Linked DNA regions of Homo sapiens: regions 2, 3 and 4 are each reported to be linked to region 1. Evidence: microRNA targets listed by miRTarBase, many of them from high-throughput screens and not tested one by one. Region 1 holds a microRNA gene; each other region holds the end of a gene's coding sequence.

Region 1 (3,185 bases):
TATTTTGGCAAGAACATTTTTTAAAGAACAGGTAATTTCTTCTCAAGAAATCATCTTGACTATAGCTGCTACAGCTATTTACAAAACGTACAGTTTTTTTTTCAGAAAATTAAACATTGAAATATTAGTATATATGTGATATAGTCATTCTTTTAGCATTTTTACCTTTCTGTACCACATAGGCTTAGAATAAGATCACATAAATGCTAATCTGTGGCAAGAAAATATGGGTCAGATTGTAGTGTTTCGCTTTTTTTATTGTCATAGAAAAATTATTCTTACATGATACTTGAGGAGTAGGAAATATTTATTCTTAGAAGTTAATTTTGTAACCTCCAAATTCCATATGCCTATAAATATCTAGATCTGGACCAGTTTAGTAAAAAAAGTTCTATTTTTATATATGTGAAATACACATGTATATTCCAAACTAAGCAAAAATAAAACATTAAATTTAATAAAGGGTTTTACTTGCTCTTTACTGAAAATGAATGCCACCGGGTGAATATTGCCCCATTTTTTTCTGTCCCTTATTCCCTGAGGCTATTCCAAAATTTCAATATAATGAAGTTAACACAATACAAAGTCCTCTCAGTGGCCGACTCACTCTAGAGACATTCCACAAGTATCCTAAGGAGATGGGGGAAAGATGGAGGGGAAACTGTTATTAGTAAGAACATATTTTCTTTCATTTATTTATAAAAACTTTCCAAAAAGAGAAAGAAATCCCACTCAAGCATAAATTAACTTCAGTTCATTTTAAAAGTATTTACTAAAAGCTGTCATAAAAATATATCAAATTCACTTTCTTCCATTACTTATGTTTTGAAAACTAAGTCTTTCATTTTGTTGTTCTCCTATTTAAATTATAGTAGATGTGTACAACATGAATAGACAGATGACAGCTGGATAATAGGCATCACAAATGCCTCTATGTTCACATTTCAGGAAAATTATGTCTTTCATAAGAAAATTCTGTGGGAGAACCAATAATACTGCCAGTTCTTCAGGTAGACTTTAAAAAGTCTTATCATATATTTCAAAACCAACATGTATGTATTTAATATTTACTTATCAACTTCTCTCCATATGCCAGTACAACGCCAACTTTTTTAGGAAAATCAACAAAGACCCTCATCTCCACCTTCCCTTCCTACATCTTAGTATCCCCTTCCAGCAAGCCTAATGGCCAAGAAAAACAGGGTTCAAGTTCCTGGCTCTGCCATTTTCTAGCTTTGTAATCACCAACGGATTACTTAACTTCTCTATGCCTGTTTCTTCAGCTGTACAATGGGGATAATATTATGCTTTCTCGTTGGGCATGTAAAGTACTTGGAAGAATGCTAGTAAAAAGTAATGTTATATGCATGTTCTCTTAAGGAGCTAAAGATCCATGAATAGATTTCAACTTGACATGCGCAAAAAATGCAATGTCTAATTTGAGCACCTTTGGTATTTTTGATGAATACCGAAGGTGTTCAAATTAGGCACTGCAATTTTATGCAAGCAGGGAAGATAAACTTGCAGAAGTGGAGCTGAGATTTTTAGAAGTTTGGAAGGGTTGGTTAGAATGATAGAGGGCAAGTTTTGTAGCTGCCTTATAAGGTCAAGTTCCCAATTTCTTCAGTCCTGGCCACTACCTTAGTGCCTCCACAAACACCCAAGATACAGCAGCATTGACAGCATTGACTAGGCTTGGTTCAAACACTGAGTCCTTTGAATTATTCTCTCACCACCAATTCATTTACATTTCAGTGATGCATCAGGCAAGGATACAGATGAACCATGTCACCTGCTTCAGCTTGTCCAAACTAAATAAAGTAGAACAAATAGAGTACAATAAAGGTTTGAAAAGCATAAAATACAGAAGATAATACAGATTGCATAGGATTATAAAATATAATTATACAGGATTATAAAATATAATTATACAGGATTATAAAATACAGAGATTTGCATAGCGAAAAAGCCTTCCTAAAATGCTGAGATAAAGATTATGTAAGTGATAACTGGTCAAAAAATAGGTGAATATCATGTGACATGTAGAGGTGGAGTGGGATGTCTTCAGAGGTTGTTATTCATTCCAGAGAGAGGAATTGTCCAATGGCAGCCAGAAGGAAGACCTGAGGCAGAAAAATTAAAACACCTCTCAAGAGTTCAGATGAGAAAGGCAGGCACATTAATTAGAAGCGTAATAATTAAAATGGACTCATGAGGACAACAATTTGAGCCATCTATGAATTGAATCAATGAGATCTGTAGTGAACCAAGCTTTAAAAAGAATTTAATAATCCAGCCTTGGGTGGCTGGTTGCATGTTGGTACCATATTTAAACACAAAAAATACCAGAGGGTAAATAGTTTCAAAGAGATGACAAAATTAATTTTGGACACTGTGGATTGAAATGTCTGCTGAACATGAAAAGACACCCAGTGGAAAGCAGTCTATATAGTTTTAGAGCTCTGCACAGAGAAGTAAGACAAATATCATGATTTGGAAATCATCAACATATAATTACATTTATTGAAGTTTAAACAAAGCAAACTAGAAATGAAAAGAGCAAAGAACCAAGGAAGAATCCTTGATAAAACATAATTTTTAGTGCTAAATAAAAGAAGGGAAGACTGTAAAGGAGAACTAGGATAAGATGAGTAGGACATAAAACAAAGAAGAATGATATCATAGAAATCAAGAGAAGGAAGTTTCAAGAAAGAGGAGGAGAATCAGAAAAAAAAAATTGTTCATTGGACCTGGCATGAAAAAGATCATCAGAAATTTTAAGAGAAACGTAAGTAGAGCCATAGGGCAGAAGAAAGAATGCACAAGATAGAAGAGTAAATAAGAGCCAGGAAAGAAAAGTTCAGGTTAAAAATGGGTGGAAAGCATGGAAATATATAGGGTACTGAAGGTCTTGATGATATGTAAAAATGAATCAGTTTGGTGTTAGTAAGGAAGTGTGAACACTGAAAGGACAAGTTAGAGTTACATGGTGGGATGTTGCCACGTAAGTTTCCAGAAGTAGAGCAATCTTGGTCATACTCAGGTCCAGCCTAACAAGAGGGTGCCAGGCAGAATTGGATATAAAAGTCACCAAACTAAAGGAACTATAAAGGCAGGGTCTGGAACAGGGTATTACCTGGGCAAAGAATGCGAAAACAATGATACTAGCATCTGGAATTAAGATA
Region 2 (3,185 bases), not on the chromosome of region 1:
GCCTGTAGTCCCAGCTACTTGGGAGGCTGAGGCAGGAGAATCGCTGGAACCCGGGAGGCGGAGGTTGCAGTGAGCCGAGATCGCGCCACTGCACTCCAGCCTGGCGACAGAACGAGACTGCATCTCAAAAAAAAAAAAAAAAAAGAAAAAAAGAAAAAGAAAAAGAAAAAAAGTAAGTACATAGCAAAAGTTCTGGGTAAAATCCATATATCAGCTGAACACTTTTTGAGTGCTTACTCTGCACCAGATTGTAGAAAGCATGAAAAGGGAAATTTGTAATTGAGTGGCAGTAGGTTGACCTGGAGGTGCACAGTCTGGTCCAGGCAGAAAAGACATTCAAATGAAGCTTTCTGAAAGAGCTGAGTTGAATCTGAGTCTTCAAGGACAGGCAGTAGTTGTCTACGTAAAGGAGGCAAGTCCTATTCTGAAGGCCAGAGCCATAGAAAAGCTTGGTACCATTGTGCCAGCACCCAGTTTAGTGGGGCAGGGATCAAAGTTGCACGTGGGCAGAGACAAGGTTGAAGCAGCAGGAAAGGGGGAGTCAGACACCAAGTAGGCTATGAACTCGACCAGGGTAAGGTGTGTATGTGCAGACTGCAGAGGGGTGTTCATGCTGACTTTATTTTATAAAACCCTCTGTGGCAATAACAATGGAAGTAGGCCCGAGTAGGTTAAGAATCAAGGCAAGGATGCCTGTTAGAAATAGTGAGTGATGATGTTTCAGAGTAAGGGAGAGCACATGGAAGAGTAGTTTTGAGAAATTTAGGAAATGGAGTAAGACTTGGTGACTGGATGTGAAAGTCGAGAGAAGACTCAATCCCAGGATGACACCTTTGGCACCTGCAGTGATGGTGGTGCCATTCATTTACCAACAGAAAACACAGGAGAGATGTCAGGGGTAGGAGGAGACGTTGAATTTAACAACTGATCTGCTACATCAAATTGTCAGTGGACCATCCACAGGTTCTGTTGTCAAGAGCATGGTATAGGGTACAGACCCTGACTTGGCAGTCACTGTCACATAAGTGACCCCTGGAGTTTGCATAGAACATGAAACTGGTAAGACAAGTAGGTAAAGGTGACACAACAGATTAGAAAGCTGCAAAATAATGAAGAGTAGGCATGGAGATGGGAAGAAATGACAAAGAAATGTGTCACATGAGCCAAGGAAATCAAATGTTTTCATCAGAGTATAATGAATAGGGTGTATAAGATTAGGTGAGAAAATTGTACACTGGGTTTGGCAACATAAAGGTATCAGTGCTTTCAGCCAGGCTGGTTTTAACATACTTTGAGGTAATTTTCAAATCCCCTGATAAACTATAAAGAACACGGCAAAAACAGGTTATTGAGCTGGTGCCAGATGATTAATCAATTATATCAGTACCTAATATACAGTAGGCTCTTATGTTTATTGTTGATCTACACCAAATAGAGTACCTCAGTGCTATGTAACTGGAAAATATGTTTTTAAAAAGGGGACAGGTGGGGCAGGTTAGGGGGCTGGTATATGACACTATAAAAATATACGTTAGATAAAAGAAGTGTACAACAGCAATAGACAAATGCTCACTTTAATCACAATTCTAAATTAATTATTTTCACATTAATATAGATATTTCCATAAACCAAGAAAAACTGAGTTATTATACATTTTTTAACAGCTAACATGATTTGAAAATTTTTTATTAAAAATTGATCAGAAGCTAGTTGAAATTCTCAATGTAAATATAAAATATTCATTACAATTGTTTTTCAAAGTAAATTCAGATCTAAGCTTCCTGAAAAGCTGTACTATCTCATATCATAATAGGGATGACTAAGTACTTGACAACTACTTTCTAAAGAACTTAACAAAAAGTGACTACTTGAAGATTACATTTACAACAGAAAGGCTAACATTCTCTGCGGAGCTCTCATTTTATCATGAAATGTGGACAATCAGGAACACGTGGATGAGTGGTATCAAGAAAAAGGGCATTTCAAAATATTTCCACTTTTATTAAAGGTTTTGACAATGAAGATTTCATAAAATGTCTTTAAATACTATTTTCTAGAGAATAACCATCTAAATCGGAGACATATGCCATAAAACTGCAACCATTTTAGTGTGTAAAATAATTCTAAGTTTGTACTATAAAAAGATTTGGCTAAAATACAAAACATCTTTGCGATAAAACTGACAACGTAGCTTAAGTAGCTTATAAGATTTCAGAAATGTCTTCTGAAAGAAATAAGAATGTTTTCCTCTGCCAGATAAAACTGAACAGTTAAAGTTAAGGTGCTATAAACTAGACAAAGCTAGAAAGGCACATCATGTAACTAGAAAAGAACAGCATGTGATGTGGACTTCATGTCGAACTGATAGAAAAACAGAATACGCTCTTCACAAGGAAAGGTATGAGAAGATAATTCTTATAAACAAACTTCTCATTGAAGTCTTGAAGAGTTTTACAGAGAACATAATCATAAAATGGCTAGAGGTCATTTATAGGACATGGTAATGGATTCCTTTATATTACAATACCTGCCTCAAATATAAACACAAATCAAATATAAACACCCTTGTAAAGCTGTGATTCTCCCAACCAAACATTCCTCCTGTACCACACTCAGGTGCTAGTGGCATTTGGATGCAAAGGTTTAACTCGTGCTAATCTGGACAAGCCAAGGCGGAGACTCTGATTGGGAGACTTCACAGACACTACCACCAGTGGGCTGCTGCTACTTCTGCTACCTCCAGATGCCGCTGAAAGGAAACATATGATGTGATGCTGATGATGTCAGAAATCTCTTAACAAAGATTAATTTATAAAATAAGCAGCAAAAAAAAGGTAGTTAAGCATTATTCTGCTTTCCAGTGTCTATCAAGCAATAAACTAGATCAAAAGAACAGAATGTTCTAAAGAGCAGAAATTAATACAGTATTGCCTATTTCCAAACATCCCAGAAGCCAAGGTAATGACACTAAAACCTCACCATGAAAGCTGAAAAAGGAAGGCTGGGAACAAATAATGCTAGTTGTAAAGGCATACAAAAATGCATATAATTATAATTTCTAAAGTAATAGAAAAAGCAAATGCATTTTTAAGGTCCTGCAATTTTTACAAGTAGTCCTTGAAGAGTCTATTTTTCAATTATTAAATACCTTTAAAAATGGCAAATATTGTTATTTATTTATACTA
Region 3 (3,185 bases), not on the chromosome of region 1:
GCAAAAAGAATATTTTAAAGTTATTTTTAATGATGACCTTCATCATAATTGCATTTAGTTTGATTGTATACACATACTTCCAGGACCTTACCTCGCTGTCAAAATCCCATCCTTACCCTGTTTAAACAGCAACTCACACTAAGGAGTTGCTTGTGATATTCTTCTGCACAAGGGTAGGACAGGCTGACCCTTGCCACTGCAAATACACAACTAAAGATCTACCAAAAATAACTGATGAAAAAAGAAAACCAATTTGCTAGACTCTTAGAAAAGTACACAGGCTTTAAATGGATTCTTGAGGAGCTGACCCCAGAGACAACCCATCCTAAATGTAAGTGAAATGAAATCCCTTTTCCTTATTACCCTAATTTAAGGCCTGGAAATGGGGTGGCAATAGTTCAATACTTATCCACAGCAGTATATTTTTAACACTGTAGTAATGAACCCGATGAGGAAGTTAAATATCTATAACCTTAAAAGCCATAATTAAAGTAAGAAAAAGCAATCCACACTGTACTTACAACTACGCAAACATGTACTGAAATAATACTGATGGCTGAACATAAGGCTGTAGGTGATGTTTCTATCTTTTAAATTTTTTTATATCATGGTTATTATATTTTCGATAGGAAAACAAATGATAAAGGCTTTAAGAATGACCGTGTACTTTAAATTTTAAATTAAAATAAATTTTTATTCAAAGCATCTTTTAAAATTACAGCATGTTTATTCTTATGCTGTTAACTCTGCCAAACTACAACTTAGCCATATGAAGCATAAAACACTTCAAAAATTTGAATGTAAACCATTTTTTAAAACAAAAAGCAGTCTTAACACACCTCAAATTTTAGATACCAATGTATTTTTCCAAGTATATAGCTTATATCAAAAAGAACATTTTAAATGTTTCTAAATAGTTGTGATAATTTCTTAAACTGTTGCAATTATACAAATAAAAAATGTTTATGAAAAAACTATTAGAGTTGACAAAAGCTGACTGGAGAAACAAGGAAAAACCCTTACTTTTGAAGGCCTTAAATGTTATCATCTGTGAATTGGCAAATATTTGTATTTGAAAAATTCTTACTACCCTTCCTTCTTTAGTTAAGTTGATCAAAGTTCAAATTTCCCAAGACTGATGAGTGTTGTTTTTAGTTCATTAAATCACATATTTGAGAGCAAAAATTCTAGAGGAAATGCTGAAACATAAACCAAGATAATTCAGATGCTATAGTCTCTCTTACCAGCTTATAAGTGCTCCAAATTAAAATTCTATATACCACATTACAAAAAAATTCTTAGACCATTACAAATATAAATTCTCTTATTACAAAAAAATCCCTAAAGATTTGTAATTTACTGTACAGAGGAATTACATTTTTAAAGTATGTCCTCATCATACACATTATTCGTAACTATCGTATCTTCTTTCATACTTTTTCTCCTCTTCAAGACATTTACATGCCTCCCCTTCCCCGTGGCTACATATTTTAAACTATCTGTGTACTATGACACATTGGGATTTTTGGATAAAGAAGCCTACTTTGTAATGTTTAAACTACATCTGTAGGAACGTCTTCAACTCAAAAAAGCTAAAAAGGCACTGAAGAGCCCATATTTCCCTCTATTACTCTGAGTTTTACTCCAATTAAGCGATCTGTAAGTTACCATGCTATGCATGTCATTTAGTTCTGTTTAGAACAAAAGCCAAAATGATGGAAGTTTTGCCTACATAAAGGAGGTGGTCTGCTCAGCTCTTGATTTTTCTGTTCATGCTTCAGTACATAAAGTGGTGTTTAATAACTTTATTTGGAAAAATGGCTTCAAACCACCACACAAGTTAACACACTTGCAGTTAAAACTATTTCAGAAGCCTACTTATTTGAGTAGCTAATATTTTCTGCAGTGTTTAACTGATAGCTAAATTTAGTGAACACAAAATAGCTTGGCATGTTACTCTGAAGTAAAGCAAGAAGGTGGCTTTATGCACTGAAAATATAAATATGGAGGCTTCCATTTGCTAATAATTCTAAACAAGCAGTACAATTAAAATGTAGTGTTTGCTAACAAAAGATCTAAAACATTTCACTACAAAACAACCCTGCAGGTGTCCCTTTAGTAAAAATCCAAGTGCCAAATCTCATTACAGGGCCCTTAATATGTATTTTTAAAATTACCAATTACTATGTTACCTAGACTTTGCAAGATTAATCACTCAATTTCAGCAAATGAGAAATATGAAATGTGCAAAAGTTCCCAAGTTAACATGCTAGGGATGACAAGTGCTTTTCAAACTTAAACATTATACTGAGTTGTAAAGCCCCAGATAGAATAAGACTGATTTTGCTCCAATTTCAAAAATTCTGAACTATTGTGCATCTTACCAAGAGCCTCAAATATCTATTTTCTTCTAAGTCCATTACTTAGAACATCTTCCAAAATAGCCTCCCATTTCTCTAGCCTTAGTGGGCACAGTATTTTGCAATTAAAATTATCTATCTTACATATTTTATACTTTCTTGCTTGCTTCAGTGTTTACAGTATTGTTAAACATACTAATATATATTGTTAAAAATGATCTTATAAATAATCTGTTTTAATCTTCTTTGGCTATTTGTACCATTCTGTTTTTCAAACAAGTGTCTTATTCAGAAAGTGCTTCCTGTGAGAACTGCTTCCAATGAATGCATTAAACTTGCAAAATCTAGCTTCCCACAATATGTAGTTTTCTACCCTGTACTGTGCAGTCCATATTTACAAAATATTTTAAACTTTACGATGAATTCATTTCCATATTAAAAAAGTGCAGTTCTCTCTCACCCCATATTCTGGGGCAATAACATTCTTCATAAATTTCTACAGAATAGCAGCCTATGATAAGCAAATAAGGTGCTTAGCTTATGCCCAAGGATCTACTTTTTAAGTATGCTGGGCAGTACTTTTGTACAGTGGAAGAGTCAGTGTCCAAGCTACTGTCGGAGTGGCGCCCCAGTCAGGTTGGCAAGCTCTATGAGCGCGAGGGCTCCATGCAGGCGCTCCCGCTGCTCCTGCAGCCGGCGCTGGGCCCCTCTCTTCTCGTCGTCCTCTTCATCAGACTGAAGGTATTCCAGAGGGTCCTGCTGCTCCTGATCAGCCTTCTGAACCAGCTTGCCTTTCAAAGTGGGGGTGCGCTGCTCTCTCATTTC
Region 4 (3,185 bases), not on the chromosome of region 1:
TCTTAAAGATTCTATTCCCAAGTCCATTTCTTTCACATCTAGAAACTTAGGCTTCTTTCCTTCCGTTACTTCCAGTGCTGGCTGAAGATGCAATCAAGGCCGCCCTGGCTGATTACAAATTGAAACAAGAACCCAAAAAAGGAGAGGCAGAGAAGAAATGAGCCCTCCCTCGGCGAAGCCTCCAGCAGGCCACACCAGCTGTTTCCCACCTGCTGTGCAGTCACCTTAGATGTTCAGAAGCCGCTTCCTCTCCACTGAAGAGCTATGAGATACGCACAATACTTGCTGTTCACGTTATGACTCTCATGCAAGCAAAATACACAGTTTCATTGTTCTGAATCCTGTGGTTTCTTTCAGCCCACTTTTATCGCCTTAACCTAGTTAATGTATATTTTGAATTGTGTGTATGACCTCAGAACTGAAATTGATAATGAAGTTGCAAGTTTTGATAGCCCGTGAAGTGCATAAGTATCTAATTTTACCTGAATTGATTTGGGGGGAAATTACCAGTAGAATGCCTTGGTCTGAATATTTGATAGAACCAATTGTTGTACATAAAACAGATTGCGCATATATATATATGTATAAAAAATAATAAAATAATGGAAGATGATGGTGTTCTCTAGTAAGCCTTGTCTCTTGGGCCCATCATTCACCCTGAAGTGGTGCCCAAAGCCCCTTGGGGTTCCCAGAGGTTGGACCGCAGTGACATACACAGCTCTCCAAGCAAACAAAGACAAATATACGTAATATTTTTTGGAACAAGGATGAAAGGAGATGATTATCGCTTGTCATTGTTCTTTGTGTGATAGTAGTTGAAAGCTCAAAGTAAGTCTTGAAGATTCTTTCTGTAATTTCACTGGTTGCTCAAATCTAAAAAGCATTAGCTTGGCACCCTAAAGCGGTAGACCAGATACATGAAGAGCACCTCGGGAATGAGTTTAAAATGCGGATTTCTAGGCCCAAGTTTCTGACTTCTGTCTGGGCAGGTAATTCCAGAGCCCCTGACTTTTAAGAACCTCTTGGGTTTTTTGTGGTCGTAGATGAGCCAAACTTTAGGGAAGAAACTTCTGAATGCTGTGTTCTGCATAGATGTAGTATCTTAAGTGGTTCATTCTGAACTATCTGTACCTGCATAGTACACCTAAGGTTGTTTAAAAAACATTCATCCAGCCGGGCGCAGTGGCTCACACCTGTAATCCCAGCACTTTGGGAGGCCAAGGCGGGTGGATCACGAGGTCAAGAGTTCAAGACCAGCCTGGCCAAGGTAGTGAAACCCCATCTCTACTAAAATTACAAAAATTAGCCAGGCATGGCGGCACGCACCTGTAATCCCAGCTGCTCGGGAGGCTGAGGCAGGAGAATCACTTGACCTGGGAAGTGGAGGTAGCAGTGAGCCAAGATCACACCAGTGCACTCCAGCCTGGGAGACAGAGCAAGACTCCGTCTCAAAGCCAAACAAACAAACATTCATCCCTGGCTTGGGCATAAGTCTAAGCACGGGCCCTCCTACCCTGATGTCTCCCTATTTTTAGCTACCCATAGTCATGCAAATCTCAATAAAGGATGCCCTATCTTCTAGTGAAAATGGGTTATTGAAATATTGACTGCCATAGTCTCAAATGTTCAGCTTCAAAAGTAAGATGTGTTTGTTTTTTCTGGTGGTGGTTTTTTTGTTCAGGTATAGGCTGGCTGCCTCTTAAATATACCTCCCTTGTTTTTTTTGTTGTTTTTTGTTTTTTTGTTTTAATGCTCTGGGTTCTGGTGGAGGGCACAGAACTTCAAAGACTGTTCCTTCTGTAGTCTGTGAAGGCAGCCACAGACCAGGGCCTTTATAGGAATCTCAAATTAGAACCCTGGGTAGAACCATGTAAAATTGTCCTGTGTGGCATGTTCTGCAATTTAATTCACAGTCCCTCTAGACTGAGCTTGTCTCTCCCTTCTTTATTACATGTGGCACCACCACAATTCCCCACCACTTTTCTTTGTGATTTTTTTAATTTAAATGAGACATTTCTGTCCCAGTGAACATCCTCAGAGTTGAACATCAGGAGGAGCTTATAAACAAAGCAATATTCCCAGAAGAGCCCAAGTCTCTAAACGTGGTTGTACTGCTAAAACAAATGGATATTTTTTAAATTCACATTAAAGACACTCTTTCCCCAAACAAATCTAGTTTGAGCCACATGAGGGCATCATGTGCCCTTCAGTGAACTCAAGTCTAGGGGTTTTTGCAGCCTCCAAATAGGTCTTAGCATCTCTAAATAAACCTGTCCATGGAAAACCTCCACAGATAAGTTAAAATGGTCTGTCAAGCACCTGTGCTCTGTTCCAGGCCCTTACATCTGTAATCCTGTTAATTCTCATGACAGCTGCCTGCAGTGGGCATTGATTCAAACAAGGACACTGGCTCAAGAAGCCAACTGACCCTCAGGCCAACTGGCTTGATCTGAGTGACCCAAAGCCCATTCTTCTGCCTCACCCCTCCTGGCAGAACACACCAGGGATTCAAACTGCACATCAGAGGCTCACCTGTGCCTTGAACATTCAATGAAGAAGCTGAACCAACACAGGTTGAGCCTGATGCATTCTCTTGGCCAACTGGCTGCCAAGCACCATGGCCCTCACGCCAACCCTGGCTCCCACCAGGAGCCTAATTAAATCCTGATGCCAAGTTAAATCCAATGCTCTGGAGGTGGGGCCTGGGCACTGGCATCACCTGATGGGCTGGGTGGGTTTATGGGCAGATGGATGGATGGGGAAGCAGAGGCTCCGAGAGGTGAAATGACTTGCCTCAAGGCACACAGCTAGGAAGTGGTAGAATTGAGCTCTGGCTGAGGTCTTCTGCCCACCTCCCACCCTCTCCTGAGTGCCACACTACAGCTATGACCACATCTCGGATGTAACCTTTCCTAAGTGTGATTCCTGGACCAGGGCCACCCGGGACCACATCCAAATGCACAGTTCTAGAACCTCACATTAAGCATTGTCTTGTAAAAACTACTTGGCCCTAGGATGAATTTTCTTAAAAAGACAAACAAATGAGGCACACTTCTCGATACTTCAGGCCCTTTGAACTTGAGGCAAGAGTGCAGACCTTGTGTCTATCTTCACGACAGAAGAGAAGACTTCTAGGTCCCACCAAGTTTTGGTGGTGTTAGAGGGCCCCTACAGATGAGTTCCAG

Evidence for each region. The annotated mature microRNA hsa-miR-4735-3p reads AAAGGUGCUCAAAUUAGACAU and lies in region 1 at 1,431-1,451, opposite strand. An mRNA with a match to its seed (bases 2 to 7 or 8) in the 3' UTR can be bound and repressed. Matches are read on the target gene's strand: a 7mer-m8 pairs with bases 2 to 8, a 7mer-A1 pairs with bases 2 to 7 and ends in A, and an 8mer does both.
Region 2: miRTarBase lists RAD51AP1 as a target of hsa-miR-4735-3p. Seed matches in the 3' UTR shown: 8mer at 2,278-2,285.
Region 3: the mRNA of ZNF367 is a reported target of hsa-miR-4735-3p. Seed matches in the 3' UTR shown: 8mer at 2,886-2,893.
Region 4: the mRNA of ISCU is a reported target of hsa-miR-4735-3p. Seed matches in the 3' UTR shown: 7mer-A1 at 222-228.

Annotation. Positions count from the first base shown.
Region 1 is chr1:196,580,987-196,584,171 of GRCh38, forward strand. MIR4735 (microRNA 4735) reads right to left here and starts at 1,495; the gene lies at 1,427-1,495. All of the region lies in intron 1 of KCNT2 (potassium sodium-activated channel subfamily T member 2), which reads right to left.
Region 2 is chr12:4,558,421-4,561,605 of GRCh38, reverse strand. It overlaps RAD51AP1 (RAD51 associated protein 1), which reads right to left. Exons shown (of 9, transcript NM_006479.5): 9 at 1,559-2,749. The coding sequence ends at 2,613. Among named protein-coding and RNA genes, the nearest start is that of DYRK4, 2.2 kb to the left of the region's middle.
Region 3 is chr9:96,385,268-96,388,452 of GRCh38, forward strand. It overlaps ZNF367 (zinc finger protein 367), which reads right to left. Exons shown (of 5, transcript NM_153695.4): 5 at 674-3,185. The coding sequence ends at 2,970. Among named protein-coding and RNA genes, the nearest start is that of SLC35D2-HSD17B3, 3.1 kb to the left of the region's middle.
Region 4 is chr12:108,568,756-108,571,940 of GRCh38, forward strand. It overlaps ISCU (iron-sulfur cluster assembly enzyme), which reads left to right. Exons shown (of 5, transcript NM_213595.4): 5 at 76-613. The coding sequence ends at 161. Among named protein-coding and RNA genes, the nearest start is that of ISCU, 7.8 kb to the left of the region's middle. RefSeq lists an enhancer at 181-330.